7 linked regions of the Homo sapiens genome follow. The protein of the gene in region 2 purifies or fractionates together with the protein of the main gene of each other region. This does not show direct contact. Each region holds a gene or a part of one and is shown on either strand. Other genes may lie near its edges. The genes, in order: GPR89A, SEC62, EVI5L, EVI5, ATP12A, COPG2 and CLCN2.

Evidence for each region.
Region 1: the proteins of SEC62 (region 2) and GPR89A purify together in Homo sapiens (affinity purification with mass spectrometry, with the first as the bait; one large-scale study listed by BioGRID). This does not show direct contact.
Region 3: the proteins of SEC62 (region 2) and EVI5L purify together in Homo sapiens (affinity purification with mass spectrometry; one large-scale study listed by BioGRID and IntAct). This does not show direct contact.
Region 4: the proteins of SEC62 (region 2) and EVI5 purify together in Homo sapiens (affinity purification with mass spectrometry; one large-scale study listed by BioGRID and IntAct). This does not show direct contact.
Region 5: the proteins of SEC62 (region 2) and ATP12A purify together in Homo sapiens (affinity purification with mass spectrometry; one large-scale study listed by BioGRID and IntAct). This does not show direct contact.
Region 6: the proteins of SEC62 (region 2) and COPG2 purify together in Homo sapiens (affinity purification with mass spectrometry; one large-scale study listed by BioGRID and IntAct). This does not show direct contact.
Region 7: the proteins of SEC62 (region 2) and CLCN2 purify together in Homo sapiens (affinity purification with mass spectrometry; one large-scale study listed by BioGRID and IntAct). This does not show direct contact.

The regions. Positions count from the first base shown.
Region 1 is NC_000001.11:145,613,988-145,618,254, reverse strand, and holds part of GPR89A (Golgi pH regulator A), read right to left. Parts: intron 2,022-4,267; coding exon 1,962-2,021; intron 1-1,961. UniProt on the Homo sapiens protein: Voltage-gated channel that enables the transfer of anions such as iodide, chloride, bromide and fluoride which may function in counter-ion conductance and participates in Golgi acidification.
Region 2 is NC_000003.12:169,976,274-169,980,540, reverse strand, and holds part of SEC62 (translocation protein SEC62), read right to left. Parts: intron 3,596-4,267; coding exon 3,490-3,595; intron 1-3,489. UniProt on the Homo sapiens protein: Mediates post-translational transport of precursor polypeptides across endoplasmic reticulum (ER). Proposed to act as a targeting receptor for small presecretory proteins containing short and apolar signal peptides.
Region 3 is NC_000019.10:7,832,791-7,837,057, reverse strand, and holds part of EVI5L (EVI5-like protein), read right to left. Parts: intron 1-4,267. UniProt on the Homo sapiens protein: Functions as a GTPase-activating protein (GAP) with a broad specificity.
Region 4 is NC_000001.11:92,694,609-92,698,420, forward strand, and holds part of EVI5 (ecotropic viral integration site 5 protein homolog), read right to left. Parts: intron 3,378-3,812; coding exon 3,252-3,377; intron 846-3,251; coding exon 702-845; intron 1-701. UniProt on the Homo sapiens protein: Functions as a regulator of cell cycle progression by stabilizing the FBXO5 protein and promoting cyclin-A accumulation during interphase. May play a role in cytokinesis.
Region 5 is NC_000013.11:24,690,186-24,694,452, reverse strand, and holds part of ATP12A (potassium-transporting ATPase alpha chain 2), read right to left. Parts: intron 4,116-4,267; coding exon 3,981-4,115; intron 3,850-3,980; coding exon 3,732-3,849; intron 3,490-3,731; coding exon of another isoform or gene 3,472-3,489; coding exon 3,203-3,471; intron 2,025-3,202; coding exon 1,826-2,024; intron 1,667-1,825; coding exon 1,557-1,666; intron 10-1,556; coding exon 1-9. UniProt on the Homo sapiens protein: The catalytic subunit of a H(+)/K(+) ATPase and/or Na(+)/K(+) ATPase pump which transports K(+) ions in exchange for Na(+) and/or H(+) ions across the apical membrane of epithelial cells.
Region 6 is NC_000007.14:130,549,860-130,554,126, forward strand, and holds part of COPG2 (coatomer subunit gamma-2), read right to left. Parts: intron 2,572-4,267; coding exon 2,496-2,571; intron 1,486-2,495; coding exon 1,382-1,485; intron 791-1,381; coding exon 665-790; intron 1-664. UniProt on the Homo sapiens protein: The coatomer is a cytosolic protein complex that binds to dilysine motifs and reversibly associates with Golgi non-clathrin-coated vesicles, which further mediate biosynthetic protein transport from the ER, via the Golgi up to the trans Golgi network.
Region 7 is NC_000003.12:184,354,487-184,358,753, forward strand, and holds part of CLCN2 (chloride channel protein 2), read right to left. Parts: coding exon 4,196-4,267; intron 3,825-4,195; coding exon 3,696-3,824; intron 3,610-3,695; coding exon 3,476-3,609; intron 3,371-3,475; coding exon 3,293-3,370; intron 3,213-3,292; coding exon 3,134-3,212; intron 3,002-3,133; coding exon 2,876-3,001; intron 2,781-2,875; coding exon 2,696-2,780; intron 2,609-2,695; coding exon 2,507-2,608; intron 1,293-2,506; coding exon 1,208-1,292; intron 1,044-1,207; coding exon 888-1,043; intron 488-887; coding exon 418-487; intron 229-417; coding exon of another isoform or gene 173-228; coding exon 62-172; intron 1-61. UniProt on the Homo sapiens protein: Voltage-gated and osmosensitive chloride channel. Forms a homodimeric channel where each subunit has its own ion conduction pathway.

The sequences.
Region 1 (4,267 bases), on a different chromosome or scaffold from region 2:
TCTGGTTACAAGTCAGAAAACTTATTTTGAGGAAATTCTCAAGTCATTGGAAGTAGGGCCACAACAGCAACTTGCCTGGAGCTAAAGAAAAAGATCAATATAGGTGGCACTTCTGAATCTTGAGTCACTATTACCAGCATCCTCCTGTGGATGAAGAATTTTGAGGACAAGAAGATGAAGTGACAGGGTCATAGGTAGCACTTAGAATTCCTGATGCATACTGACAAAAAACTGACAGATTCGTACATAATGGTTAATGTTTAAAGGGGTTCTTCAACACTCTGCAGATCCTGGATCAGTTCTGGAACCTTCCTCGGGAGGTCTTAAAGTATTGGGCAGAAGAAAATCTCCAGAATCCCAGGCTCTTTCAGACAATAAACTCCCTGGGAAAGTTTAATGGAGAATATCCTAGAAATGACCCAAATGTAGACTATAACCACTGATCTTATTACTAATTAGGAGAACTAACTAGGAAATGTCGAGTCTAGGGTGGTGATCTTCTGAATCCAAAGCTTAAGATAAAAACAACACCAGCCTTGTGTTGCGGGAAGTCAGGGACCCCGAATGGAGGGACTGGCTGAAGCCGCAGCAGAAGAACATAAATTGTTTCATGGACATTTATTAGTTCCCAAAATTAATACTTTTATAATTTCTTACACCTGTCTTTACTGCAATCTCTGAACATAAATTGTGAAGATTTCATGGACATTTATTAGTTCCCCAAATTAATACTTTTTAAATTTCTTATGACTGTCTTACTTTAATCTCTTAATCCCGTCATCTTTGTAAACTGAGGATGTATGTCACCTCAGTACCCTGTGATGATTGCGTTAACTGTACAAATTGTTTGAAAAACATGTGTGTTTGAACAATATGAAATTAGTGCACCCTGAAAAAGAACAGAATAACAGCAATTTTCAGGGAACACGGAAAGATAACCATAAGGTCTGACTGCTTGCGGGGTTGGGCAGAATAGAGTCATACTCTTCTTCTTGCAGAAAGCGAGTAGGAGAAATACTGCTGAATTCTTTTTCCAGCAAGGAATAACCCTGGGGAAGGAATGCATTCTGGGAGAGAGGTCTATGAATGGCCGCTCTGGGAGTGTCTGTCTTATGCGGTTGAGATAGGACTAAAATACACCCTGGTCTCCTACAGTGCCCTCAGACTTACTAGGATTGGGAAATTCCAGCCTGGTAAATTCTAGTCAGACTGGTTGTCTGCTCTTGAACCCTATTTCCTGTTAAAATGTTTATAAAGACAATGTGTGCACAGTGGGACACAGACCCTCATCAGTAATTCTAATTTTTGCCTCTGCTTTGTGATTTTACTGCCCTTTGCAGCATGTGATCTCTGTGACCCACTCCCTATTCGTACACTCCCTCCCCTTTTGAAATCCCTAATAAAAACTTGCTGGTTTTGTGGCTCGGAGTCACCATCACGGTCCTACCAATATGTGATGGCACTCCTGGAGGCCCAGCTGTAAAATTTCTCTCTTTGTACTCTTTCTCTTTATTTCTCAGACCGGCCGACACTTAAGGAAAACAGAAAGAACCTATGTTGAAATATTGGGGACTGGTTCCCCTGATAGCCTTGGGATTTTGGTATTAACTTATAATATAAGGTTTGCAATTCAGGGCCAGATAGACAAATGAAAGGGAACATTTGTGAGACATTATGAATTAAATTCTCTCCTACAGAATAACTATTTGCTATTGGTACATATCCTGATATGACTAAGACATAATCCTTGCTCCTAACTTCTGGGCTATATTTGATTTGCCTTTTTTCCCCCCTTTTAAATCAATTAAGTCTACTTATATTCTGCAATCTAATAGTTATATAGTACTTATTTGGTAAAAGCTTCCTATCTTGGAAATGAACATAATGTTTCTTTAATGGAGACATTTTTCTTGTCAATCTAAATCATATAGTGTAAGTATGACAAAATGATTTCTTCTCACCTCATAGTCTTTAAACAATTGGCGCATGAAGAAAAGCCACCCAAATCCAAAAAATAGTATCTGGAGGAGAAAGAAAATAGAATGTCAATACATATTTTCTTTTGAGAAATGTTTTATAGAAACTCTTTTATGATAAAAGGTCTGCTAACTAGACGGTTAACTTATTTCAGGGATTAAAGATAAGATCCACTCTTATAAGACCTATTATTAAAGCTCATGACATTGGAAATAAATTTTTAAATGCCCTTGGAGTTTTGAAGTTATCCATGTTACAGAGTATGCTTTAAGACAAAAATGGAAGTACATATTTTGCCATAATCTTATGATAATCATTATATGAGCCAGAGAAGTTTGCAAATAGAAAAGGAGTCAGTGGCCAGGCACGGTGCCTCACACTTGTAATCCCAGCACTTTGGGAGGACAAGGTGGGCAGATCACCTGAAGCCAGGAGTTCAAGACCAGTCTGGCCAACATGGCAAAGCTCCGTCTCTACTGAAAATACAAAAATTAGCTGGGTGTGGGCACCTGTATTCCCAGCTACTCCAAAGGCTGAGGCATGAGAATCGCTTGAATCTGGGAGGCAGAGGTTGCAGAGAGCCAATATCGTGCCACTGCATTCCAGCCTGGGTGATAGAGTGAGACTAGGTCTCGAAAAAAAAGAAAAGGTGTCAGAGTGAGACTTGCTTCTTATGGATGATCCCTGATTGCAAGTATTTAAAAATAATACCAGCCTGGCCAACATGGTGAAAACCCGTCTCTACAAAAAACACACACACATAAAAATTAGCTGGGGGTGGTGGGGTGTGCCTGTAGTCCCAGCCACCTGGGAGGCTGAGGTGGGAAGATCACCTGAGCCTAGGAAGTTGAGGCTGCAGTGAGCCATGATTGCACCACTGCGCTCCAGCCTGGGCAACAGAGTGAGACCCTGTCTCAAAAAATAAATAAAAATAAATTAATTTAAAAAATAAAAACTTCAGGGGAGAGGAGTTGAGACCAAAATTAGAGGAGTAGTAGAAAGCCTAATATTTTTTATATCTGTTTCCTTCAGAGAGTTTTCTTAGCTTCTCCACCATCCTGCCTAATCTACATAAAAGTGGTTTTCATCTCAATGTAAAGCCGAGAGATTGCAGGATCCCTCTTTCGTCAGTTTTGTTTCAAACTGGCAGAGACCGTAGCCACATGACAGCTGATAAAGCTGGTCTGTAGTAAACAGAACTTTCTATACATACACACTGACACAACTACTCTTTTCTTCTTAAACTGGCTAGGACCTTTATGAATAAAATGATTTTATGTCTTTCTAGGGACTACTTTACTGAGCAAGTGTAAACTCAGTAGTTTAGCACAGACTACTTTAGCTTCTTATCATGCCCCTGCTGCCTAGCAAACTCATGTGTTCAGCCCCCTGGAACTTCTTTGGTTCTTTAGATCCATATTCTTTCACATCGAGACCTGTGTAGATGTCCTCTGAAAGGAACTTCTCTCTAGCCCTCTCCCAGTTATGCTATTTACTCCCCCTGGAAGGCCCTCTCTGCCCTCCCAAATGCAGATAAATTGCTTTTTATATAATCCTGTTTTACATTGTACTTCCCTCATCAAAGTGCTTACCATACAGTTTTGTAATGTGTGATTTAAATATTTTTTGACATTAGATTATAAGCTCTATGAGGACAAAAACCATGTTTGTCTTGTAATCTTTGTATCCTTGGCATCCAGCACAAAGCCTGGTACGTAGCAGGCTCTCCATAAGTGCTTGCTGAATGGCTAAGTGGTCTACATAAAAGATGGTTTATTCTTCAGCATTCAATCTTAAATTTTCTGTAATAACTCCTACGTGCTATGCTAAGTGCTGAGGATACAAAGATGAATAGGATGGTTACTACCCTCTAGGAGCTCACAATATAGTGAAGACAGTACATAAATAATTATAACATAATATGGATGTGCAATGATAGAAATACATACATGATATTGTAAAACAATATGAAAGAGGGAGACCAAACCAATCTGTAAGGGGTTAGGACAGATTTTCTGGAGAAGATAATGCCCGAGCCGAAGGAAGTTTTAATTTGGGGTTAAAACCTGATATTGTATGCACATTTTGGGGTTATGTGCATTTTTCTAGAGTGGTTTCAAGGTATTCATCACACAGTCAAAGGTTTCCACCACCCCTAACATAAAAACCATCCTCTCAAAGGATGAATAAGAATCAAGTAGGGAGGCTGGACATGGTGGCTCACGTCTGTAATCCCAGCACTTTGGGTAGATCGCTTGAGCCCAGGAGTTCGAGACCAGCTTGGGCAACG
Region 2 (4,267 bases):
ACAGCTGCCCACCCCCACGAAAGAAAAGTAGATTATTAACTTTCAATCAAATTGTGTTGAAAATAATTTCACAATTAGGTTGAAAGATGAGACTGACATTATTTAACATTTGTATAGTATCAGAGCCTCCGTTTGTTTGGCTTTAAACCCATGACATAGAACACATTACTAACATAAAACTCTCTGACATTTTTACACAACTACTCATACTTTCCTATCTCGGTGTGTTCTATGCCCTTTGCTTGGAATGAATTTCCTTTCTTCTCTTGTTTGTTGGGTAATCACCTATTTATGTTTCAAAATTTACTTAAAACATTTTCTGTGTGATGTCATTCTTCATAGTTTCACCATCTCTCTCTTCCTTATTCAACACACTGCATTGTGATTAGTTATAAATCTTCCCTAACAGATCAGAATATGTTTTGATGTAGGGACCAAGTCATAGTTATTATTGTATTCCTGGAGCCTAGACTATTTGTTGAGTAAGTGGTTTTAAAACAGCTTCTAAAACATTTAAAAAATTACTTCTGTATTTTTTTCCTTCACTTCCATTTTTTTTTCAGATTTAACAAACATTTATTAAATGCCAGACATGTTGGGGACTTCCACCAATGTGGCAAAGGTGAGTTTTTATGAAGTGCTCACACTGTGGTAATTGCTATGGAGTTACAATAAAGTATAAAACAGTCTTACAATTGTTTTCAGATTTAGCTGGCAGGAGATTTTAAAAAAACTCACACATATGTAGCAATTCTAAAATAGTTAAGGGCCAAACTGGGAGGTACTAACTTGATAAACTCAGTAGAACTTTAGATACAAAGGCTGATGAAGGCTGGAGGGCCTGGGGAAGAGTACATTCGGTAGAGGAAGGACTTGAGGGATTTGTTTGTGATTTTGAGAGGCAGGTGGGACAGAGGAAACAGAACCGTTTAGGGAAAGTGGCAAGTTATGATAGGAAAAAGACTAGAAGAAAAAATGAGTGTGGCATGTGCACAAGACTGAGGACGACATAACTGGATTGGGGGTCAGTGATACAAAGTCTTGTGGAGACTTAACCTAGTATGTATGAGTTCATTCATGATATAGGCCATAAAAAGGTATAGATCACATTAGAAAAGATTGTTTTATCATCCTACATTTTCCTATTTTGTTTTTCCTCAGACTCCCTCATGCCACTTAGCTGCCTCAGAAAAACTGACAGTATTGGAGGATGCCAAAAAAAGAAAAAAAGAAACTGGTCAAGAGACCCTTTGTGATTTTGTCTGCTATTGGGCAGCAACTCATGAGAACTGGCCAATAAGACTCTACGGTTATATTAGAAGTGGCTCTGGAGACCTTAAAGTTATGCTATTCTCATTTATTTTAGTGCAGAAAGGACTCAAACAATCTGACATCAGTGGGAAGAGCGTATACAATGAAAATCGAGTGTCTTTGGACACTCTCTGTACTCAGGTCTTTTGAGCTTTTCAAATAACAAGGTACCAAGGCTCCTAAAAAGCCAAAAAATGTGGATTCATACTGGCTGCTCTACTCAGAGATTTGGGCTTACAGATCTAATAGCTCCATTAAATGCATCGTCATTTTGTTGGAGGAGACAGTATAGAGCGGTAGTTAAGAACACAGACTGTGGAGACAGGCTGCTAGATGTAGAACCCTAGATCTGCCACTTGCTAGCTGTGTAGCCTTAGATAAAGTACTTAAGTTCTCTGTGCCCCAGTTTCTGCATTTGTAGCATCTCTTAATTTTTACACAACATGTAAAAAATACATCAGTTTTGTGGCAGGTAAGGAAGTTTGTACTTTTTGGTTTGTTTTTAAGACAGAGTCTTGCTCTGTCACCCAGGTTGGAGTGCAGTGGTGCGATCTCGGCTCACTGCAACCTCCACCTCCCGGGCTGAAGCTATTTTCATGTCTCAGTCACCCAAGTTGCTGGGACTACAGGTGCATGCCACCACGCCTGGCTAATTTTTGTATTTTTAGTAGAGATGGGGTTTCGCTATGTTGGCCAGGCTGGTCTTGAACTCCTGGCCTCATGTGATCTCCCTGCCTTGGTCTCCCAAAGTGTCAGGATTACAGGCGTGAACCACTGTGCCCAGCCTGGAAGTTTGTACCGTGGAGCTAATTCTATTCACCTTTTTATTTTTTCCCCACGAGCAGATTCAAGTTGCCCTGGATATATGCTTGCTGGAGCTAATTCTAACTAGACAAGTTGCTACAAAAGACAAGCAAATATCAACTGCATGAGTGTTAGCTCATCCTTGTCTCAACAATGTCTCACTCTGTCGCCCAGGCTGGAGTGCAGTGGCGCAACCTCGGCTCACTGCAAGCTCCGCCTCCCGGGTTCACGCCATTCTCCTGCCTCAGCCTCCCGAGTAGCTGGGACTATAGGTGCCCGCCACCACACCTGGCTAATTTTTTGTATTTTTAGTAGAGATGGGGTTTCACCTTGTTAGCCAGAATGGTCTCGATCTCCTGACCTTGTGATCCACCTGCCTCGGCCTCCCAAAGTGCTGGGATTACGGGCATGAGCCACTGTGCCTGGCCGAAACCTACTGTTTCTAAAAGGTCTGTTAGTAACCTCTAGTCTTTGGCAACTAAGAATTTTAAGAAATATTCAATAATTCTTTAACTTGACAGCTTAAGAAACCAGGTTGTGAAATAGTGGTTTTTAAGAGGGTTCTTATGTGGCTGATACTTTAGGTGCCATTAAATAAAATATTAGTACACATAAAATAATCTAAAATCCCAAAAGATAAGCTTTAGTGTTATGAAAACAAAATTTAGTTAACATATATTAAGAAAATGCTTAGTATTAAGTAAACCAAGAAAAAAAAGAAAAGAAATGGAAAGAAAAACCAGCATACTTCCTTCCAAAAGGAAGGTGATTTTGTCTTTTAGGTAAACCACTTAACATCAAAAGTTTTTTCAAAACAGAAAAAGTATCTATTATGAAAAATATATGTATATTACTGAATTAGCTGTATTTCATCTTGAAATTCTCAGAAAAAGATAAGGTAGATGTTGCAGCTTCCTTGATTTTAGAAGAAATACTACATTAGCAAACACTGAACCAAATAGGAAAGGGTATGAGGCTTATGGCTCAGGGTGCAGGCACTAAAAAAGTAGCGGTAACACAGCTAATAGGAATTCCTGCAAAAGTTTTGAAAAAAAGACTCCTCAACCAATTTGCTCTACAAAAGAAAAAACTTTCTTTTCTACTGTAGGCACTGGTATATGACTTTTGTTGCTGACCCTTCAGTAGGGCTCACAAATATATAAAATAGAACATAAATAAAAATTATATACAGTTAAAAGTATAATAGTCTAATACCAAACACATTTCCAGAGGTACCAAAGAAATCAGGTTACATGTGAAAACAGTATTTGAGTTATGTTGTAGTATCACTACATTTAATGATGTAAGGAGCTTCAGGACTATGAAGAAAATTTAAAATTATTATGTTATTCTTCACTAAGAAATAAACAGTACCTGTTGCAGTAGTCAACCACAGACTCCCTGGTTGTAAATAAAGCTTCCTCTCCTTTCTTGGCCTTTGCCCACTTTGAATCCAAAAGACAGTCCACTGCTTTTGAAGCTAAAGAAGAAATTCATTATTTTAAATTTAGCATACATGGGGATTTATGTCTATCTAAATAATATTTTATAAAGTAAAATTTCAACACTCTGGCAACAAAAAAGAAAACCAAACTCAACAGAAAACTAAATCTAACATGATCATGATTAGTAGTTCCCCAAAACCTCAACTTGTGAACTATATTAAGTATCTTTTAAAAGTAATGTTGGGAAATAATGGCATTCAGAAAGACCAACTAAAGCAAGTTAAATTAATGGGGAAATATTCAAAAATTTAAAATATCTGTATGTAACTATCACTCTTATTAATCACAAGCATATGTAGATAAACCAAAATGTTCACCACTCCCTGCAAGTAATAAAAATTCTCATCAAGTTTTACTCTAATACACTGAGGAAGAAGCTCTGTCAACAATCCACTGCTGTCACAAGAAACAGCTAAACATATTATATCTGAAGAGATTAGCACATCTACTTTTTAAAACTTGTAATGAATGTCAAATCATTAAAAACAGTAAAGAAAGAGACGATAAAGGACTTTTCCTCTACACTGGCAATTTAGTTTTTTTTTTCTTCTAAGAGACAGGTTCTTGCTCTGTCACCCAGGCTGGAGTACAGTGGTGGGATCATAGTTAACTGCAGCCTCTAACTCCTGGGCTCAAGCCATCCTCTC
Region 3 (4,267 bases), on a different chromosome or scaffold from region 2:
CAACTGGCCATTTTATTTTATTTTTGAGACAGGGGTCTCACTCTGCTGCCCAGGCTGGTCTTGAACTCCTGGCCACAGGGGATCCTCCTGCCTCAGCCCAAGTCTATTTTAAAAATAATAATAAAGGCTGGGTGCGGTGGCTCATGTCTGTAATCCCAGCACTGTGGGAGGCTGAGGGGGGGCAGATCACTTGAGGTCAGGAGTTCGAGACCAGCCTGGCCAACATGGTGAAACCCTGTCTCTATTAAAAATACACACACACATACAAAATTAGCTAGGTGTAGTGGCGCATGGCTATAATCCCAGCTACTCCTGAGGCTGAACCCAGGAGGCAGAGGTTGCGGTGAGCTGAAATTACGCCACTGCACTCCAGCCTGGATGACAGAGTGAGAGACTCCGTCTAAAAAAAAAAATGAAAAAAATAAAAATAGAAATTTCTGTACAGTGTAAGCAGAAAAGCCAACGACGGCTTTAACACACAAGTGCCATATGGCACAGAGAGTCCCTTGACTAGGCTGAGGAGGAAGAAGGATTTGAACTTGGATTTCTGACTGTATAGCCTTTGCCCTAAATCCACCCGCTGTGCTGCAGCTCTGTCTGTATTCTTTTACTTTGGGAATGATACACGTATGTGAAACCCCAAGTGCAGGGGTTACTCAGTGAAAACAGTCATTATTTTTCAACGGTGAGAGAGGGCGAGCACATATGATGCATCTTTCAGTCTGTGGCATTTTCAGAGACAGCAATGAAGACCCCGAGTTTCCTTTCCATGTTGTTTCCCTTACTCCCCTACCCCCCATTTCCTTCTTTTTTTCTTTTCTGAGACAGAGTCTTGCTCTGTAGCCCAGGCTGGAGTGCAGTTGCACGATCTTGGCTCACTGCAACCTCCGCCTCCTGGGTTCAAGCACTTCTCCTCCCTCAGCCTCCCGAGTAGCTGGGATTACAGGTGCGTGCCACCATATCTGGCTAATTTTTGTATTTTTAGTAGAGACAGGGTATCGCCATGTTGGCCAGGTTGGTCTTGAACTCCTAACCTCAGGTGATCCTCCCGCCTCGGCCTCCCAAAGTACCGAGATCACAGGTGTGAGCCACCACGCCCGGCCCTACCCCCCATTTCTGATTCCTCCATGTCTAATGATTACCAGGGACACAGACTCATTTCGGAATCTAAAGCCCAAGATGCCATGTGACCCCGATTTGTCTAGCCTGACAGACTGCTGCTGTCTTGGCTGGCTCTGACCTCTGGGGAAATGGCCCAACCTAGCACCTTAGGTCCTCTCGTCCTTGGCAAGGTGTGGGCGGACAACTGACAGGTGAGCTGCCCCTTGGATAACAAGAACAGCGGCTTGAATTCAGAGGTCCCTGCCTGATCTCTTCTTGCGCCCAGTCTAGCTGCTCCTCCACATGGTTCTGGAAGTTTCCATATCCCTGGCCTTGGAATGTAGGTTGTTATCCCAGATCTCTTGGCTCCAGGTGAGAACTTCAGAGCTTGCAGCCTGGGTTCAAATCCTTCCTCTACCTCTTTCTTTTCTTTTTATTCTTTTTTCTTTGAAACCGAGTCTACCTCTGTCACCCAGGCTGGAGTGCAGTGGCACGATCTTGGCTCACTGCAGCCTTTGCCTCCTGGGTTCAAGCAATTCTCCTGCCTCAGCCTCCTGAGTAGCTGGGATTACAGATGCCCGCCATTATACCTCGCTAATTTTTGTATTTTTAGTAGAGACGGGGTTTCACTGTGTTAACCAAGCTGGTCTCGAACTCCTGACCTCAGGTGATGCACCCGCCTCAGCCTCCCAAAGTACTGGGATTACAGGTGTGAGCCACCGCTCCTGGCCTCCTCTACCACTTTCTATCTTTGTAACCTTGGGTATGATGTATTTTGCCTCAATTTTTTTTGTTTATTTTTATTTTTATTTTATTTTTAGAGACAGGGTCTTGTTTTGTCACCCAGGCTGCAGTATAGTGGTACAATCATAGCCAACTGCAGGCTCCAACTCCTGAGCTCAAGTGATTCTCCTGCCTCAGCCTCCCAAGTAGCTGGGACTACAGACACTTGCCACTATGTCCAGCTAATTTTGTTATTATTATTATTATTATTGCAGAGAGAGAGTCTCACTATGTTGCCCAGGTTGGTCTCAAACTCCTGGCCTCAAGTTATCTCCCTGACTCGGCCTCTCAAAGTGCTGGGATTATAGGCGTGAGCCACTGCACCTGGCCTGCCTCAGTTTCATTATCTGAAAACAGGGCTAATGACAGTATCTACCCCACAGTTTTTGTTGGAAGGAATCAATGAGCTTAAACCTGTCATGTGCTTAGGACAAGCCTGACCTGTGATATTTATTCCCTTCTGGATGAAAAGTTCTACTAGGGCAGGGGCTGGGGCTGTCTAGCCCACTATTGGATCTTCAGAGTCTAGTAGGCATCCCATATTTGTGGGATAAATAAACTTCCCCTCTTCAACAGGCCCTCCCTTTCTGTGGTGATCCTGTTTAAAGAGTAAACACAGTAAAACTAGAATAATCTTTATTGATAACAATAGCAGCAACAGCAGCACACACCTTTGGCTAAAATCTGAGAAGTGAACCATTCTGACCTGCAGAATCCTTTCTGACCTAAAAAAAAATTTTCTTTCTTGTCATCTGACCAGATTACTTTTGGCTATTATAATAGGTTCCCTTCTGGCAAAACCCTCATTTTTCTTTTTTTAAAAATTTTTAAAATTTGTATTTATTTCTTTGAGATGGAGTCTCGCTCTGTTGCCCAGGCTGGCATGCAGTGGCGCGTTCTTGGCTCACTGCAAGCTCTGCCTCCCAGGTTCAAGTGAGCTGGGGCTACAGGTGTGCACCACCATACCCTGCTAATTTTTTTGTATTTTTAATAGAGACGGGGTTTCACCATGTTGGCCAGGCTGGTCTCGAACTCCTGACCTCAGGTGATCCACCCGCCTCGGCCTCCCAAAGTGCCGGGATTACAGGCGTGAGCCACCGTGCCGGGCCTCAGATTTCAATCAAACACTCTCACAAGCATATCGTGGCATGCTGAGAAATGAATGAAAGTGCAGGTGAGTCATGCCAATGAGGCCTTCCAAATCTCCCTCAAAAGGGTAAGTCTCTTCCCTAACCCTGATGAATTGAGTTAGTTCTCCCTGACCCTGATGAGCTGAGTTAGTTCTCCTAAACTCACCTCCTTCCTTCTATTGCCCGGGCTGCTAGCATGTGTGTGCTGCAGTCTTCCCTGGGAAGGGCGGCTTTGCTGCCTTTCCAAGTTCTCCCAACTAGGGATCCCCTTTGCTGGGGAGCCCCCCACCATGTGTGCCAAGTGTACAGATGGCACTGGGGACACAAGGGCTTGTAGTAAGACGCCTATCAAAGGAAGTACAGGGACACGCCTCCCTGAGCGCACCACGCTTGCTCCTGCCTCTTGGGCGTGTGTCCAAGCACTTCTGCTGCCTGGAACACCCTTCCCTGCCACGCCTGCCTGTGACCTGGTCCATACGTCATCCCTGCTGTGCCTTCCCCAACACCCCAGGGATGCATCAGGCTTTTTTTCCGGGCTCCCATTGCAGCCTGCTGTACATAATTCTGTCTCATGCTCCCCGCAGCAGGCCTCAGGCCAGGATGGCAAGGGCGCGTGCTGCAATCCTGGTTCCTCCGAGTTTTGGGGAGGATTAAATGAGATAATATGTCAATGGTGCTTGGCATGGTGCTGAGCACATGGCGGGGGCCGCCGCATGCCAGTGAGAGGACTTTAGACGCAGAGCAGGGACCACATTGTACACATCTTACATTCCTTCACACCCCAACATCTGACTCCAGGCCCAGGGCTTCCCTGTAACAACTGGCATCTCTATTCTGCAAGAGGAAATTGAAATATACATTCCTCCTCATCCGTCTGCCCCCTCAAAGCTCAAACAAAGATGCAGCTCCACGAGCCCAGTCTCGGGTAAAACTGCGTTCGTATCACTGACAAGTCCTCCTCGTGGTTTCCTATAGAGTTCACAGTCATCCTGGGAAGCCTTCATACCCCACTGTCTCTGCACAAAATTCCACCCTGGGGAGGCTGTAGAGTTTAGTTTCCTGTGCGTGAGAGATACCACGTGACCTTCAGGAGTCTTTTCCTCCACGCCTTCCTTCAGCAAGTGGACAGAACAAACCTCTTCCTACCCGGTGTCAGAGGTCTATGTGGGGCATCAGAGATCTATGTGGGGCCTCAGCATGGCTATCCGACAGCCCCTCATGCCCACCCTGTTCCCCGTGGTCCTCCTGGGAAG
Region 4 (3,812 bases), on a different chromosome or scaffold from region 2:
GACATATAAATAAATGGGCAGGGTTGTGTTCTAGGAAAACTTTATAAAAAACAGGTGTGGAAGAATGGATTTCGCACAAAAATCTGTCCATCTGATTGGTACATGAATCACAGCTGACCAACTGTGATCTGAACTAATTTAGATAGGTAATACAAATTGATTTTCCCAAGATGTAATTAATAACAACATTGAGTTCACAGACTAGAAAACAAAGGATTACCTCTATGTGCTACTGACAAAAGGACAACAACCTGCAATGTGTTCATAGAAGAAACATGCTTATTACTTCTTACTCTTTGGATGACAGATGCATTTCAACAATATTAACTGTAAGACAAATTTTACCTCTCACTAACTTTCACTGTATGAGTTAGGAGGTGATAAAGAGGTATGATTAACAGTGTAGGCTCCAAACTGCCTATGTTTGAATCCTGGTTACAACACCACTTATGTATTGTGTGTCCATAGACAAGCTACTTAACCTTTCTCTAAGTCTCAACTTCCTCATCTATCATCTAACAAATGCAATAAAAACAGTATCTACCTGATAGGGTTATTATAAGGTTTAAATGAGATTATCCATGTAAGCAGTTTTGCATGGGACACATGGCTTTCCTTCATTGCTCTCCTCATTGCCCTGCTCTCACTAACTCAGTGACCCCTTTGCTCAGCTCCTGCTCTTTGTCTGCCCATTAGCTTACCTCAGACATAAAGATATCAAATATCCTTGTTGCAATTGGTAGTGGAAAAGTTGTAAGAAAGATAGTCAGAAACCAGGATGATGCATACATTGAGGTATGAAAACTCTGAGATTGAAAATGTACAAAGAGCTCTGGAAGATGCTCCTAAAGAGAAGAAAATAATTAGTTATAACACAGTAAAACTGAGTATTTTAAATTAGATTATATTTATACTAGATTAGCCTATACCAAACACAGATTAGATCAAGCATCATATGGAAAAGGTAAGACATAGACATTGAAACATCTGGGACAGTGGCTAGTATCTAGGAAAGAAAGAAGGGGGAAAGAATGTGAAGTTGGAATTTTGAGTATAACATTTAATTTATTAATAAAAAGAAACTGAATAAAAGTTTTATATTTGTTTAATCCTGTTGGTGGATACAAGAGTGACTGACATTTTCTATACTCTTCTATCAACTATAATATTTTAAAAAGACGTTTAAAAAGAAAATAAATGGTATGTTAAAATACTTTCAGGCACTATCTACCACTGATCACCCATTCTTACCTTCCTAAAGAATAGGAAAAATATTCAAAATACAGATGTTTCAGCAACTCTAGTAATTCAAAACATAAATGAGACTTTTTTTTTTTTTTGAGATGGGGTCTCACTCTGTCACCCAGGCTAGGGTACAGTGGTGTGATCTTGGCTCACTGCAACCTCTGCCTCCCAAGCTCAAGCAATCCTCCCATCTCAGCCTCCCAGGCAGCTGGTACTACAGGTGCACACCACCATGCCCAGCCAATTTTTTTTATTTTTAGTAGAGGCAAGGTTTTGCCATGTTGCCCAGGCTGGTCTCAAACTCCTGGGCTCAAGTGACCTGTCCACCTCAGCCTCCTAAAGTGCTGGGATTACAAACATGGGCCACTGCGTCCAGCCATAAATGACACATTAATTGAAAATATAACATTAAGAGAGTTTAAGGCTGCTAAAAACAAGCTTACTATTTCAGAAAAGAATTAATTAAGAATCATCTCAAGTCCAGGCACAGTGGCTCATGCCTGTAATCCCAGCACTTTGGGAGGCTGAGATAGGAAGATCACTTGAGCTCAGGAGTTCAACACCAACCTGGACAACAGAGTGAAACCCTGTCTCTACAAAAATTAAAAAATAAAAAATCAAAATAGATAAAAAACTATTCAGGTGCAGTGGTATACACCTGTAGTTTCAGCTATCCAGGAGGCTGAGGGAGGAGGATGGCTTGAACCCAGGAGGTCAAGGCGGCAGTGAACTGTGATTGTGTCATTGTACTTCAGCCTGGACAACAGAGCTAGATAGACTCTGTCTCAGGAAAAAAAAAAAAATCATCTCAAAACCTATTCTGGCTTTTTCTTTAAAATATATAAAAACAAAAAATATGTACCCCATAATGTACAACTATTGTATGTCAATTAAAAAATTAGCCAGGCACAGCGGTGGCTCACGCCTGTGATCCCAGCACTTTGGAAGGCCAAGGCGGGCGGTTCATGAGGTCAGGAGATCGAGACCATCCTGGCTAACATGGTGAAACCCCATCTCTACTAAAAAAATACAAAAAATTAGCTGGGCGTGGTGGCAGGCACCTGTAGTCCCAGCTACTTGGGAGACTGAGGCAGGAGAATGGCATGAACCCAGGAGGCGGAGCTTGCAGTGAGCCGACACCACGCCACTGCACTCCAGCCTGGGCCACAGAGCGAGACTCCATCTCAAAAATAAATAAATGAATAAATAAAAAATAAAATATAAGAACATTTTACATATCCCCTTGCTCCCACCACAGATGGGAAAAACTGGAGTTTATAAGGCTGCCAGGAGAGAGGAAACTAATAAAAATGGCTCTCATGCCAGCTGATTCATTCACCTATTTTCTTAAATTCTGCTCATTTAATTGAAATTGAAATTGAAATAAATGAAAATATTTACATTATAGCAAACTTAAATATATAAAATATAAAAATTAAATCCAGAAAGGTAAAATACTTCAAAGGTATTTTTCCCTTGATTTTGATTCTGCTCCTATTCTCTCCACCTTCATACAGTCACTAGATAACTTGAGTCTTAAACTAGCAACATAAGAAAACATTACAGGAAAAAAAATTACGGGCTAGCAAAAAATAAAAATAAAATAAAAGTAAAAAGGCAGAGGAGAGGACTCAAAGAGACAGTCTCCAAGTAAATGGACTGATGTCAGTGTAATATCATAAAGCTCCTGTAAGAGAGCTTAGACTACGTAACAATAATAGGATATAATAAGGAAATTCATGTGCTTAGGTAAGGGGTGTATAGTACATTTGGCAGAAATGCTTAAGGATTGAATATGAAAACTGGAGTCAAGTCCTAGACTGTGATCTACCTAATTTGAAGGGTCAAATTGTACATTAACCAACCAAAAAACAATCATGTAATTAAAACACTTACTTCTTCAAGTGCTTTAATGCTTTTAACATTAAATTTGCTTAGTTGGCACTCAGAACAAGATATAAAAAATATAAAGGCAATATGCCTTTTTATCAACACTGCACTTTTACCTGTATCATACATTCAAACTGGTACATACAAAGGCCCAATTCTGCCATACTTGGTTTAAAAAGTTCACGAAGTCTATAATCTTGCATTAATTTAACAAATACACAGAAAGCTTCTTCTTCTGGCATCTACATTGGAAGAAAAAAAAACAACATAGGTTAATGTTCTCTGATACACAAATAAACCAATGATATTTAAACTAAGTACACAGCCAACCACAAACATTGTTTGAGTGGCTGTGTGCTGCAATGTTAAGAGCAATGAGGTAAGAATCAGAAAGTTCTAGTCTCCCATTCTATCACCAAGAATGAGAAGTTAAACAAATCTTACAACCTCTGAAACCAACTGCCTCAACTTGCCTCATTCATTAATTCAACCCAAAATACTGATTTACAGCCAGATACTTTTCTCTCTCTGGGTATACACCAGTGAACAAAATAAACACAATCTCTATTCTCAAGGAACCTGAATTTCTAATGGAGGGAGACAGACAAGACATGGAATAAATCAACTAATATATATGTCAGATGGTGATGGATGCTACAGAAATAAAATAAAGTAGG
Region 5 (4,267 bases), on a different chromosome or scaffold from region 2:
CACAGCTTTCTGGGAATCAAAGAAGAAAAATATTTGCAGCACATATTTAATGAACCAACATGCCCTCAGCATAGGACCCAAAACACACCCTCCTGATCCCATTACCACCTAGCTGGAGAGACATTATCACGTGATCAGGGAGGGCCGCAAGACCGTGGTAAGCGTGTAAACAACAGTGCCACCTACTGGCATTAGGGATGTTTGGAGAAGCTGGACCTCTGCGAGGACTGAAGATTTCGTGGAAAAAAGCAGCTACGAACTAGATCTTGATAGATAGGTGGGTTACCGATACACAGAGAAGAAAGCCTTCCAGAAACCAGGATGCGGGTGCAGGGGCATGAGGGGCAGGCTCGTCCGTGAGTGTTCAAGGTACAAGCGGATGTGGAGGGTGTGGCAAGACCTGGAGGGCCCTGAAAGGTAGCCTGAGGTCTAGACTTGAGAAGCAGAAAACAGGGAAGTACGGAGAGATTTTGAGCAAAGTTAAGTGACTATAAAAGCACCATTAAGGGAAATTAGTGGCATTCGAGAAAGACCCCAGGAGGGATAAACCGGAATCAAAGAGGTTTAATTCCAATCAGCCGGTAATCGGCTATTTAGATGCAAGGTACTGCTGACAAATACTAAAGTTATGTATATTTTGAAGCAAGAATGATAGAACTTGGTGGCTTACTGGATATAAGGAAAGGATAAAGTCAAAGATGACTTCCAAATATTCTGTTCCAATGACAAATAGAATGGTTATATCATAGACAATTAGAAAATTGCGGCAAGGCACTGATGTGCAGCCAGGCTGGGTACGGGTGGAAGTTAACAAGCATGATTTGTGCAACTTCCTAGCGGAAGCACACAGCCAGCCAGAGATTCGGGTTGGAGTTGAGGTAAGAAATTAGAGCTGGACATAAAGATTTGGAAGATATCGACAAAGAAGCAATTGGCCAAAAAGAGCATTCATGAGCTGTCTGACGGAGAGAAAAGCAAACAAACAAACAAAAAAATAAGAAAGAAAAAGAGTCAGGGAAGGAAACAGATGGCAAATAGAAAAGCCAGGAGAACAGGGATTCAGTGACTCATTGAGATGGAGAGGAAAAGGGAGGAAGGGAAGGAGGAGAGGGAGGGAGGGGGAGAGTTTATTGTATGTTCCGATATTCCAGGACCCCTTAGAGCTTTGTCTGCAGCCATATTCTAGTTAACAGGAGTCCTTTTATTTTTATTCAATCACACTTTAAATTTCCATGAATGGTGTGTATATTAAAAGGAACTTTGATTATATCCACTTAGCTGGCAGAAAAGTCAGGAAAGTAACTTAGAAGTGCATTCATTTCCAGAATTTTCTGAAGACGCTAAAGCAATATTCTGAAACCTTTTAAGCATCTTTGTATTCTCAAAGCTAGTGTGCATAAAGAAAAATTTCTGGATGTCTTGTGAGTCTGACTTGCTCTTGCAAGCACTGAACAAACTTTAAGCAACTGGAGAGATGAAATCAAGCACCCAATCAGACCTCAGCAAGTGACTACAAACTGGCTGTGATTTAAGACCAAGTGCTGCAGAAGCATTACCTTCATGATGGGGACATTTTCCTGTCCTGGCTTGAACTCTGCTCGGTTACACAATGTTATTATCTTGGATAAGGAGGCCCAAGTCCTAGAGCTTTGGTCAAAGACTTGGTCTGGAAGACAGAGAAAGAACAGTGGCTGCTGTGGGTTGGGCTGGCCGTCCATGAGTCACTGTCCAGCAATCCTCTGGCTGCAGACCCTGCTGTGTGCTCAGCTCAGCCCCAGGATGGAGTCCACAGCTTTGGCCAGACCGAGCTCTCCATAAGACTTACTTGAATGGTCCTCACTGGTGTCAGCCACAAAGATCTGATTGTCGAACCACAGATGGGCCACTGTCATCCTGTTCTGGGTCAGTGTCCCAGTCTTGTCCGAGCAGATGATGGAGGTGGAGCCGAGGGTCTCCACAGCCTCCAGGTTCTTCACCAGGCAGTTCTTCTTGGCCATCCGTTTTGCTGTCAGCGACAGGGTCACCTAGCAGGAGAGGGAAGGACGCTTTGGGAAAAATCCTCATTTGAACTCAGGTCCAATAATACAGAAATAGCCAATGTGAGCTGTGATTGAATTTTAGGAGAGAGCTGGACTAGTTTTAGGGGAGAGGTGTGGTTGTCAGCGCAGCTAAGCTGACCTGGTGGCTTATACGCCGCCAAGAGCCCTCTATGCCACAATCCTTTTTTAAAGATTAAATATGAGATGCTTTTCTTGTTCCTTCATGACTTGAAGAAAACAAGGGACCCACGGGCAGCAAACACGGACACGCTGCTGTGGCTCGTGTTCACGTACAATCACGACGCCTCCTGTGATCCCTAAGCAGGAGTGTGTAAGAGAGACTGACCAGTGCATGCCAAAGAGTTGTCCCAAAGGACACACTTGTTGCTTTGGGGAATTCAGCAGCCTTTATGTTGTTTCATTTTAAAAGCTCCATATTTTAAAGATTCTTTTAAACCCCTAGATCTCAAAGGGTTCTTTTGGCTCCAATTTCCCCAAATTACTATCTCCTGGAGTCAGAGGAGACCTGGACTTCAAAAACTTCTTCTCTTTTCTTTGGTCAGGACAATAGCAGGCCAATGATCATGTAGTCACAAAACTGGAAACATAAACCCCCTCCTCTCCTACCCCTTGAGACCCCCACAGGAGAGACTGAGGAGGAGGGGGCTCTTCTCTAGGGACTGAATGACATGGGCCCATACAAACAGCTGGGTCTGGGGTTGGCCAGGAAAGGGCTGGAGTCCTCGGCAGGAAAAATGGGAGGAATTTTTTTTTTTCGTAAGAGAGGTAAGTGGAGTGTGGCAATGTGCCTAAATGCCTAAGTTGTAGAAACTGCCAAAGAAATGTGCGGAAGGCATCAAGCTTCTAGAAAACCTGTGAATGGTGGAGTCTGTCTTATCTAGATCTTATGGGGCAGAGTAAGCTGTGTGAATTGCAGATTGAAAGCATAACGTTTTCAAGGAAAACGCAGTCAAATATTGAAAATATGACAAATTTTTTGTCTCTGTAAGGAACAGTCTATGCAGAATGTTCCAGGGTTGTCGCTGGCGGGGAGGGCGTGGTGCTCTGGACTTGGGGGAGATTGCAGTTTGTGTGGGCGCCTCCCCAGCACCAGTGCTGTGTCCACAGGGCCAGGTGCAGGCTGTCTAACAGCATGGACTCACAGTGACAGTGGCCAGGAGGCCCTCGGGCACATTGGCCACAATGATGCCAATGAGGAAGATGATGGAGTCCAGGACTTGATACTTCAGGGACACAGCGATGATGAAGAAAAGGATGCCGATGGAGACAGCCACTCCTGCCACAATGTGAACAAAGTGCTCGATCTCAATGGCAATGGGCGTCTTCTCATTTCCAACTCCTGAGGCCAATGAGGCAATATGGCCAATGATGGTGCGGTCACCCGTGTTGATAACCATGCCGGTGACAGTGCCTACAGGGGAAGTAGATGCTTTATTCCAGGGGTCCTCAGCCAGGAGGGGTGTGCAGCCAGCTTGCAGCCCTCTCTGGGGGCTGGCACAATCGATAGGCACACCACATTCCCAAGGCCAAGCATCGTCCTCTAGGCCCTTCAGTTCCATGCTTCCTCTGGGATGAGCTTTGTAACGGGGTGTGGCAAAGGACAGACCTGAGAGCCCAGGAGGGAGAAAGGACACAGGTGGACATGTGGGCTGAGAGCCAGAGGCCTTTTACCTTCCAGACACGTTGTGGAATAGAAGCAGATGTTCTTTGTTTCCAGGGGGTTTTCATGGGTAAACTCAGAGGAGCGGGGCTGGGGCTCAGACTCCCCCGTGAGAGATGAGTTATCCACCTAGAAGAAATGTTGAAGGTGGTTCACAGCTGGGTACCTCATTCCCTGCCTCTTATACTGATGCTGGGAAAGACCCCAGAGCCAGCAGGTTTGGAACATGGTCCTTGGGGTGGATACCCCTTGCCGCTTACCCGACACCCCTGAGAAGACAGCACCCTGATGTCTGCAGGGATCTGGTCTCCTCCTTTGACCTCCACAATGTCCCCCACCACCAGCTGCTCTGAAGGGATGGTCTTCTTCTCGGAATCTCGGATGACGAGAGCTTGCTGCAGAAAAAAACCATGACAGATGCCTCAGACCCTGGAAGGACACCGGCCCTCCCCCAAGTCTGTGCCGCACCGAACCCCAGGACAGAGGCCTTGGAACTTCCTGATCACTCTCACTGTTGAGTCCATGCTGTTATGCAGCCTGCACCTGG
Region 6 (4,267 bases), on a different chromosome or scaffold from region 2:
AATTCTTTTAAGACGAACCTCCAATAACAAAATCAATTAACTTAGAGATTATCAACTTCAGAAAATAAAAATAGGAGGCGACAGCACTATTACTGCTCTGAGATGCACAGTGGCAACTGACTTCAGATACTGTAATGCTTTGCATTAAAAAAAACCCTTCATTTTGGAGTGCATTTCATCTTACTGCTTTTATGTAAAAACCAGGAGTTTTTTTTAAACTCTAATAAAAATATGTCTTAAATCTAAAAGATTTAGAAGGGGTGACAATCGGCTGAGCACGGTGGCTCCCGCCTGTAATCCTAGCACTGTGGGAGGCCGAGGTGGGTGGATCACCTGAGGTCAGGAGTTCAAGACCAACCTGGCCAACATGGTGAAATCCAGTCTCTACTAAAAATAGAAAAATTAGCCAGGTGTGGTGGCGCATGCCTGTAATCCCAGCTACTCGGAAGGCTGAGGAAGGAGACTCGCTTGAACCCGGGAGGTAGAGGTTGCAGTGACTAGAGATCGCGCCACTGTGCTCCAGCCTGTGCGACGGGAGTGAGACTCTATCTCAAAAAAAAAAAAAAAAAAAAAGAGTGACAATTAAATGAGTATTAGAGAAAATATGCTAATATTTTTTAGTTTTGCAAAACTACTTATACACAGAAAAATGAATAGAGTGAACCTGCTTTCTGTTCAAAGACAGGAGCCATAGCAAGAGGAATTGATTTCATGTCAAACGGTTTTTCTGAAGGCTCCAACGTGTACTGGTGTAAGGCTTTTTCCATCCCTGGTACAGAGACCGTCAAACCTGTGAAACATAGAGAAATCTCAGCATTATAACCTCTTGCCAATCCTCGAATCCAAATAGGCCCAGGTTTGTAATATTTATCTAAGCTTTCTGAAGGAAGAGAAAAATATAACCAAAAGCTTTATAACCTAAATATAAAAATAAAGGATATTCTTGAAATTACCTTATAAACTTATAAACTGACTTATTTCATTCAAGGAAACATGGGAGCATAGCATACACATTTTCAACAAAATGTATGTACCTCCCAGAAAAGAAAGCAACTTAGCTATATGGGAACAATGATAGCATAAGAAAACGGGAAAAATGTAAACCCATCCAAGAGGGAGTTCAAGGAGAACCAGGAATAAGTGAGCAACGTTCCTAAAAAATGTAAGGGCCCAATCTATATTCTTATAGATTGCTGCATAGGAATTATCATTACCAAATTAGAAAATATCCTATAAACACAGGTTTCTCTAGAAATGGAAGTGCACTCAAAGACAAAAACCAAGCATTTGCCTAGTGAAGTTAGCTCATATGCAAATCATAAAATATGCTTCCAAGACACCATTTGAGGAACAAAAGTGTACATCCTTGGCTTTCACTGACCATTAAAGATATATGTGGCATTTAGTGCCATCTGCCTCTGCTGCAGCACATTCAGATAGAAGGTAGCTCTGTCTCGTACCTCGTCATCAGTATCCATCATACACCTGTCCAGGGGAAACAGAATAGTCATGTCACAGTACCCCAAAGACTTCCAATAGCTCTACTACCAAATCTAAAGGACACAGCTCAGGTCGTCATCTGATACTACCTTTAAAAAAGTGCTCAACAATAGCCAACAGTGGCTCCTAAAGTCTTCACAAATCTTGGGTACTGCTCTGAATTACTAAAGAAATACTGCTACTGTGAATCACAAGCACTACATAAGTAGGCATTAAAATAACGAGGAGCACAAGAACATGAAATAGCAGTCTGGAGTCTTTTCTTCCATCTGTAACTACATGACCCTGTTGAAGACTTAGACTTCTCTGTAATTAGGAAATGGGAGTATTATACTCTCCAAGGATACTGAAAAGATAAATTCAAAATCCAGCCACTGTTTTTGCTCAAATGACAATTTGTTTTACGTAAACTAGCCAACCTTTGGCTTGTAATTTATCTGCTTCAATTATAAGATGCAATCACAGTTTGCTAAAGCAAGTCTTTTCCTCATCAAATAGAGTCATGAAGACAATGAAAAACTATTATTTTTAACTCTGCATAGTGAATTACCTAACAGTTTTTTTAAGTAAGCCCCTGTTGTACAAATTGAGGCAAATGTATTTAAGTCACTTTCTCAAAATCATGTGAGAGAAAGCCAAAATCAAATGTGACATGTACCTAGCAAATAAAACCCTATGGAGAACTAATATTTTAGGGAATGGGGCTGGGAAGAGAAGCTCTATAAATAAGAGTGAGGAGTGATGGAAACATGTAGGCTATTGTGTAAACCAAGGCTAGGGGCTTTCATGAAGTGATCAGTCAATAGCACATCAAATTGATTGGGAGGTATACATAATTACTAAAAAGAGAAAGGAATTGCCATTTGCCCCTGACTTGCTCCAATAACTCTACTCTTAGGGCTTAGAGTGCATCCGCCCTATGGTAGAATGAGGATTTCACTGTTTAACCATATAGAATTCTTATTTTTTTTTAGAAAAGACATTATTTAACTTACCTCTGTAAGAGTACAAGGATGCTTGGGAGAAGACTCTCATTCTGAGCCCCAAATTTAGCCAAAGCACTCACAGCAGCTATAATGAAGCATACAATTATGGTACATAAATATTGGTTTCTCAGAGTTAACCAATAACCATTTGAAAAAAAATTAGAAAAGTGTCCCCATGTTCAGTGGAGATAAACTCCCTTGTTTTATTGAGTGTTTCTTGATCTTATTTCTTTGATACTGTTAAGCATAAATAGAATTCTGCAAGCCCAAGAGAGCTCTGAATAGGAAAATCTTCCAAAAATTGAGGAAAAAGATTCATATAGATTTTCTGTAGGAGCTATATCTCCACCCCACCACAACCCCTTATATATCACACTGATGTCATTAAGCTCTAATCTCAAACAACCAGCCCCAAGCATAAAAAGAAATTCTATTATTAAAATTCCTCTCATTCAACAAAGATTCATTGTTCACCAAACTTTTGTCAGGAATTGTGCTAGGTACTGGGACAGATAAAAGACATGTCCCTGATCTCAAGGAGCTACACTCTAGTGGGAAAGATAGGTATGTAGAGAGACAATTACAAGACATCATAGGTAAGTCCATGGAAGAAATATATCCAGGATGCTATGTGAATACACAGAAAGGAACTAAATCCGAATTGGTGGTGGAAAACTAAGACAAAGAGTTAATACATATTACTTGAGCTAAAATCTGAAGACCAAGTACTGTTAGCCAGAGGAAAAAGGCAGGATAAGAGTATTAGAGGCAGAGAAAATAACACGTTCGAATGGCCCCTGCCCAGAGAAGAAAGTGTGGTGTATTACTGGACAGTTGGGCAAGGCTGAGCAAAGGACCCATGTTGGAGAGCAAGAAGAGACAAGGGAGAGACTGGCAATAAAACAAAATTAGGGTATGGTTTAATCTCAACATTATTATTAAAGGATATTAAATATGAGATAAATTTGTACATTTGAAAGTCCCCCCCGCCTTTTCTTTTTTTTTTAGCAGAGTGTAAAGAATAGGCAGGATATATGTGAGTCTAGAAGCAGTCAGATAGCTAGGGATCTGAAACGGATGACAGCCTCAATCAGCACCAAGAAAATAGAAGAGAATGAAGAAATATTAAGGAGACACAATTGAAAGCGCTTTGCTAAAGAACAGATAGGGGCTGTAAGGCAGCAGAACAAGATTCTATCTTGATAACTGAGTGGATGATGAATGTGAGGTTAGTTTGAATTTCAGGTTGAGTTTGAAGTGCTTTAAGTTATTTGGACAAACAAGTTCAGGAAAGAGACATGACTGGAATGTCACAGCCTATTAGCAGAGCTCTGAAAATGATCACCAAGAGGAATGTAGATGTTGAGAAGTCAAAATCTTACAGAGAACTAATATTTTAAGGAATGGTGCTGGAAAGAGGAGCTCTGTAAATAAGAGTGAGGAGTGATGGAAACATGTAGGCTATTGTGGAAACCAAGGCTATGGGGTTTCACGAAGTGTTCAGTCAATAGCACATCAAGTGGACTGAGTGTAAACAAAGGTAAGAACATTAAAGTATCTAACTTGATTTTACAACTAGTTTATAAGTAATTTTCAATAAAATTACTTGAGGATTTTTAAGGGAGAGCTACATTATTCTGAGTTAAAGAGAAAAATGGATAATGAATTCATGCAGGCAGCTAATAACGGCTACTTCAAGTTTATCTCCGAGGGGAAGGAAAGTATAGAGTCAGTAGCTAGTGAAAAGCTCATAGACAGTTTACATCTTTAATGGGAGAGAT
Region 7 (4,267 bases), about 14 Mb from region 2:
CCCTGTGGCTGGGGCGTGGGTGGGGGGGTCTCCCAAGGCCGATGGGACCTGAGGCACTCACCGACCACAGCGTAGCCCCCAGGCACAATCCGGTAGGTGCTGCTGTCCGTATGAATTCCATCTGGGAACCAGGCAGCCATGCTTTCACCCACCAGACGCCCAAATGCTGCTCCTTCAGGGAGGGGGGTGGGAAGAGAAAGAGGCAGTGGAGGGGGAGGGCAGGGGGCACTAGGAAGAGAGAGGGTCAGAGGGTGAGGGAGGGGCCAACGGGTCATTCAGTGTAGGGCACAGCCCTGTGGGGTCAGGGTTCGGGCTAGGGCTGGACCAAAAACCCGCTCTTGGGCAGAGGGTTGGCTGGGGGGGTGGCCAGAGGCTGAGGAAGGTGCAGGCTGGGTGAGCAGGCAGCTGAGAACTCACCAATGACAAAGACAGGCATGAAGGCCCCACAGGGAACTGGGATGGTGGTGGCCAGTGCAGACATCCAGAACTGCAGGCAGGGGGTGGTTCAAAGGCGAAGAGGCTCCACCTGGCCCCAGGCAGCCCACAGCGCCACCCAGGAGAAGTCTACCTCGCTGATCAGGTGGGCGTAACCCTCCCAGCCACCCCGTAACCCTCCTAGCTACCCTGGGACCCCCAGGCCTCCCAGGTGATGGCAAGGGGAAGGACTCTGGAAGCAGATGGCTTGGGTTCAGATCATCGCTCTGCCCTCTAGCTGTGTGACTTTGGGCCAGCTACTTGTGTTTCGACTCCCCCATCTTTCAAACGGGGGTGATAATAGTGCCTTTCCCATGGCACTGTGGAGAGGCTTCGAGGAGTGAGCACTGCGTGGCAGGTGCTTAGAAGGGCAAGCTATGTAAAGGTTAGCAGTGTACACGTGAGGAGCCCACCTTCATGAGAATGAAGATGACCAGGGTGAGGAAGACGTTGGCACGTGGTGGGTTCCAGGCCTGTGAGGTGCTGGGTGGTTCTAGCTCCTCCACCAGGCCCTGGCGGACCCACGTCCGATTGTCAAACAGGGTGACCAGCGTCTCTTTCTGTGAGAGCTAGAGTGAACAGGGTGCCTCAGGCTGGGAAACCGACAGGATGAAGGGAAGAGGCCATGGGATCCCACGGGGAACAAGGGGTCCCACAGTCACACTGGGGCTGTTGGCTTTGGAGGAATGCCTTCCAAGGGAAAGCACAAAACTCCTGTTCTGCCTGTGGTTACCTGTCCAGCCATGAACTGTCCAAAGCCAGGGGGGAAGGTCAGCGTGGAGATGAGCAGGGTCACCAGAGCCGGGAAGAGCAGGCGTCTAGAGTCGTAGGTTTCACATCAGTCGTGGGTGGCCAAGGGCTGGGTGGCCTCGCATATCTCAGGGCTGAGGTCAGAGCAGAGCCTTGGCTCTTTCATGAAAACACTCAGTCCTGACAGAAGGTCTCCTTTGCTGTTTATGATACGATAGCCCCAAGGCTGATGGTGGACTGGGGTTATTCTAAGAGCAGGGGTCTGACCCAAAGACCTTTCTGTCAGCCCCTGACTCTGTAGGTGGGTAGCAGCAGCAGAAAGTCCATCCTCCAAGCCCTCCCTTGGGGCCCTCCGAGTTGTTATTCCACCCTCCACCCTCAGAAGCCCATCAGGGCATATTGTGTGATGGGGTGGAGAAGTTTCTGCCTCTCTTTGTCTCTCTGCAGTGACTTAGAGTGAAGGTCAATGTTGGGGGAAGCTGGGGTCACTTGTAAAGTTGACCAGAGGTGCGTAGGGAGCAGGTTCAGCTGGCTGCCCTCTCTCTGAAGGATGTCAGTCCCAAGGGAAGTCATGTCTCGCCCTCCCCACTCCCAATCCTCAGGGTCACACTGAGAGAGCTGTGTTCTGGAGATTAAAAAAAAAAAAATCTCGGCCGGGCACAGTGGCTCACGCCTGTAATCCCAGCACTTTGGGAGGCCAAGGTGGGCAGACCTGAGGTCGGGAGTTCGAGACCAGCCTGACCAACGTGGCGAAACTGTCTCTACTAAAAAATACAAAATTAGCCGGGCGTGGTGGTGCATGCCTGTAATCCCAGCTACTTGGGAGGCTGAGGCAGGAGAATCGCTTGAACCCAGGAGGCGGAGGTTGCGGTGAGCCGAGATCGCACCATTGCACTCCAGCCTGGACAACAAGAGTGAAACTCCGTCTCAAAAAAAAAAAAAAAAAAGAGATCTCATCTATCCCCATGGGTCATGGGGGGAACCTGAGGCTCAAACACTCTCCAGGGAGCATTCCTATATGGGCCAGCCCAGAGGACCTGAGGAGGCCTTAGTCTTTGATTCCCAAATGTCCTCTACCGCTGACTATAAACTTAAAAATGCCAATTTTCAGGTAATTCATATGAATATAAAAATGCTCAGTCAGCCTGGAAAACACTGCTGGCTGATTTCTCAGTGAAGTGCCTGTTTTGACTGGGCCATTCTCTCCCCATCACTGTCCCCTGACCTACTGTGGCCCTTATACAACTCAAAGCAGCCTGGAGAGGAGCCGAGAGCCACTCACTTCCTCATGAGGAAGCGATTGATGGTTTTCTGCTTCCGCATCACCTGGACAATCTTCCGGTTCAGGTAGACAAAGAGGGCTCCACCGAAGCCACTAGCAATACTGGAAAGGGAAGAGGCACCTGAGTGAAAAGGAGCCTTCTAGAAACCCCCCTCCTCTCTGATACCCCCAGCCCCCTCAGCTCCTCACCCAATGACAGCAAAGGCTGGCAGCTCCTGCAGGTCAAAGGGGAAGTCGAGCCGGAATCGGGTTTTGAAGAGGGCTGTAATAGTCTCTAAAGGGAAGAACAGCAGAGGGAGGCAGGCCTAGCCTCGTGGGCCCCCTACCTGGCACCATCTCGGGCTGCCCTCATCCCCTGGGTGCCCCCACCTTCATCCCGGTTCCAGACTGCCAAGACCCGGAAGATGAAGGCACTGAAGGTGGCAGCGAAGAAGCCCCGCCAGTAGTTCCGCACTGCAAAGAAGGTGGAGGTGACCTCGATGCTGAAGAGGACGCCTGTGAGGGGGAGGGAGACCAGCACTTGAGGCCTGGGCCTGGCCTAAGGCCTCAGACCCAGATAAGAGGGGCCAAGGAGGAGAGGCCAAGGGCAGGGTTGTGGGGCTGGACTGACCTAGGAGCCCTGCCTACCTCCAATAGGTGCCGCGAAGCAGCAGCCCACCCCCACGGCACAGGCGGCAGCCAGCATCTCTGTGTTCCGGGATTCATTCTGGCGAGAGTGGTGGCAAGAGGGGGTCAGCTGTGGGCTCAGCAGCCTCTGCCCCCTACTTGCCCCAGGGTTCCCCTTACCTCATAGATACCCCCAAAGAGGGAGAGGAACTTGCTGAGAAGGGCAGCACACATGCTTGCGATATGCACAAAAGGGCCCTGCGGGGTGGGGCAGGCGGTGAGTCGGGAGGGGGCCCGCCCTGACCTTGGCCTGGCCTCCTCTTCCACCAGGAGGGACTCCTTCATTCCCCAGCCTGCAGTTACCTCTTTGCCAAGCGGCATCCCGCTGCCTAGGGCGCAGGTCAGCCCAATGACCTTAGCTATAAAGGTCTTGAGTGTGAGGTATTCTTTCAGCACCACTCCCCGCAAGATGGTCTTCATCTCAGGGATGCCAGAGCCTGGAGAGGGAACAGTCTCAGGAGAGGCATTCGATGCACCCATTTCAGGGGTCCCGCCTCTGCCCTCCCCTTCTCTTCTAACATACCGACAGCCTGAGGGGCCAGGATCTGTGTGAATCCGGCTGAGAAAGTGATGAGGACAACAGGGTAGGTGACCCAGGCCAGGTACTGGAGCAAGATGCTGGTGTTCAAGCCCCGGGACATCCACTGCTGGGCTGTGGGAAGAGGACCTGCTGGACCCCCAGTGCACACACCCACTGCCTGCCTGGCCAGTGGACCACGCTGATACGACAGGCTGTCCCAGGGAGTACCACACAGAGTCAGGGCATGGGTGAAGGAAAGGGTCCCTGAGGGTATTCACTGGGACAAAGCGCAATCTAGGCAAGAGGATCACTTGGAGAGGGGATGCAAGAAGCTGTGCCCTGTGGGAGTGGCCGAGATGATGCCTGAATCTGGGCAGTCAGACTGGCTGGGGAAAGTGGTCAGTGGCCAAGAAGCCAAGACGCCTTCCTCCATGTCTAGACGAGTGTGGCATGGACGCAGGAGGTTTATTCCCAGTCCTCCCCCTGCCAGCTGTCACCCTCACCTTGCAGACAGGCAGCAATGGCATAGTCCATGACCCAGCTGACCAATGCCATGAGAAGCCCCAGCAGGACCA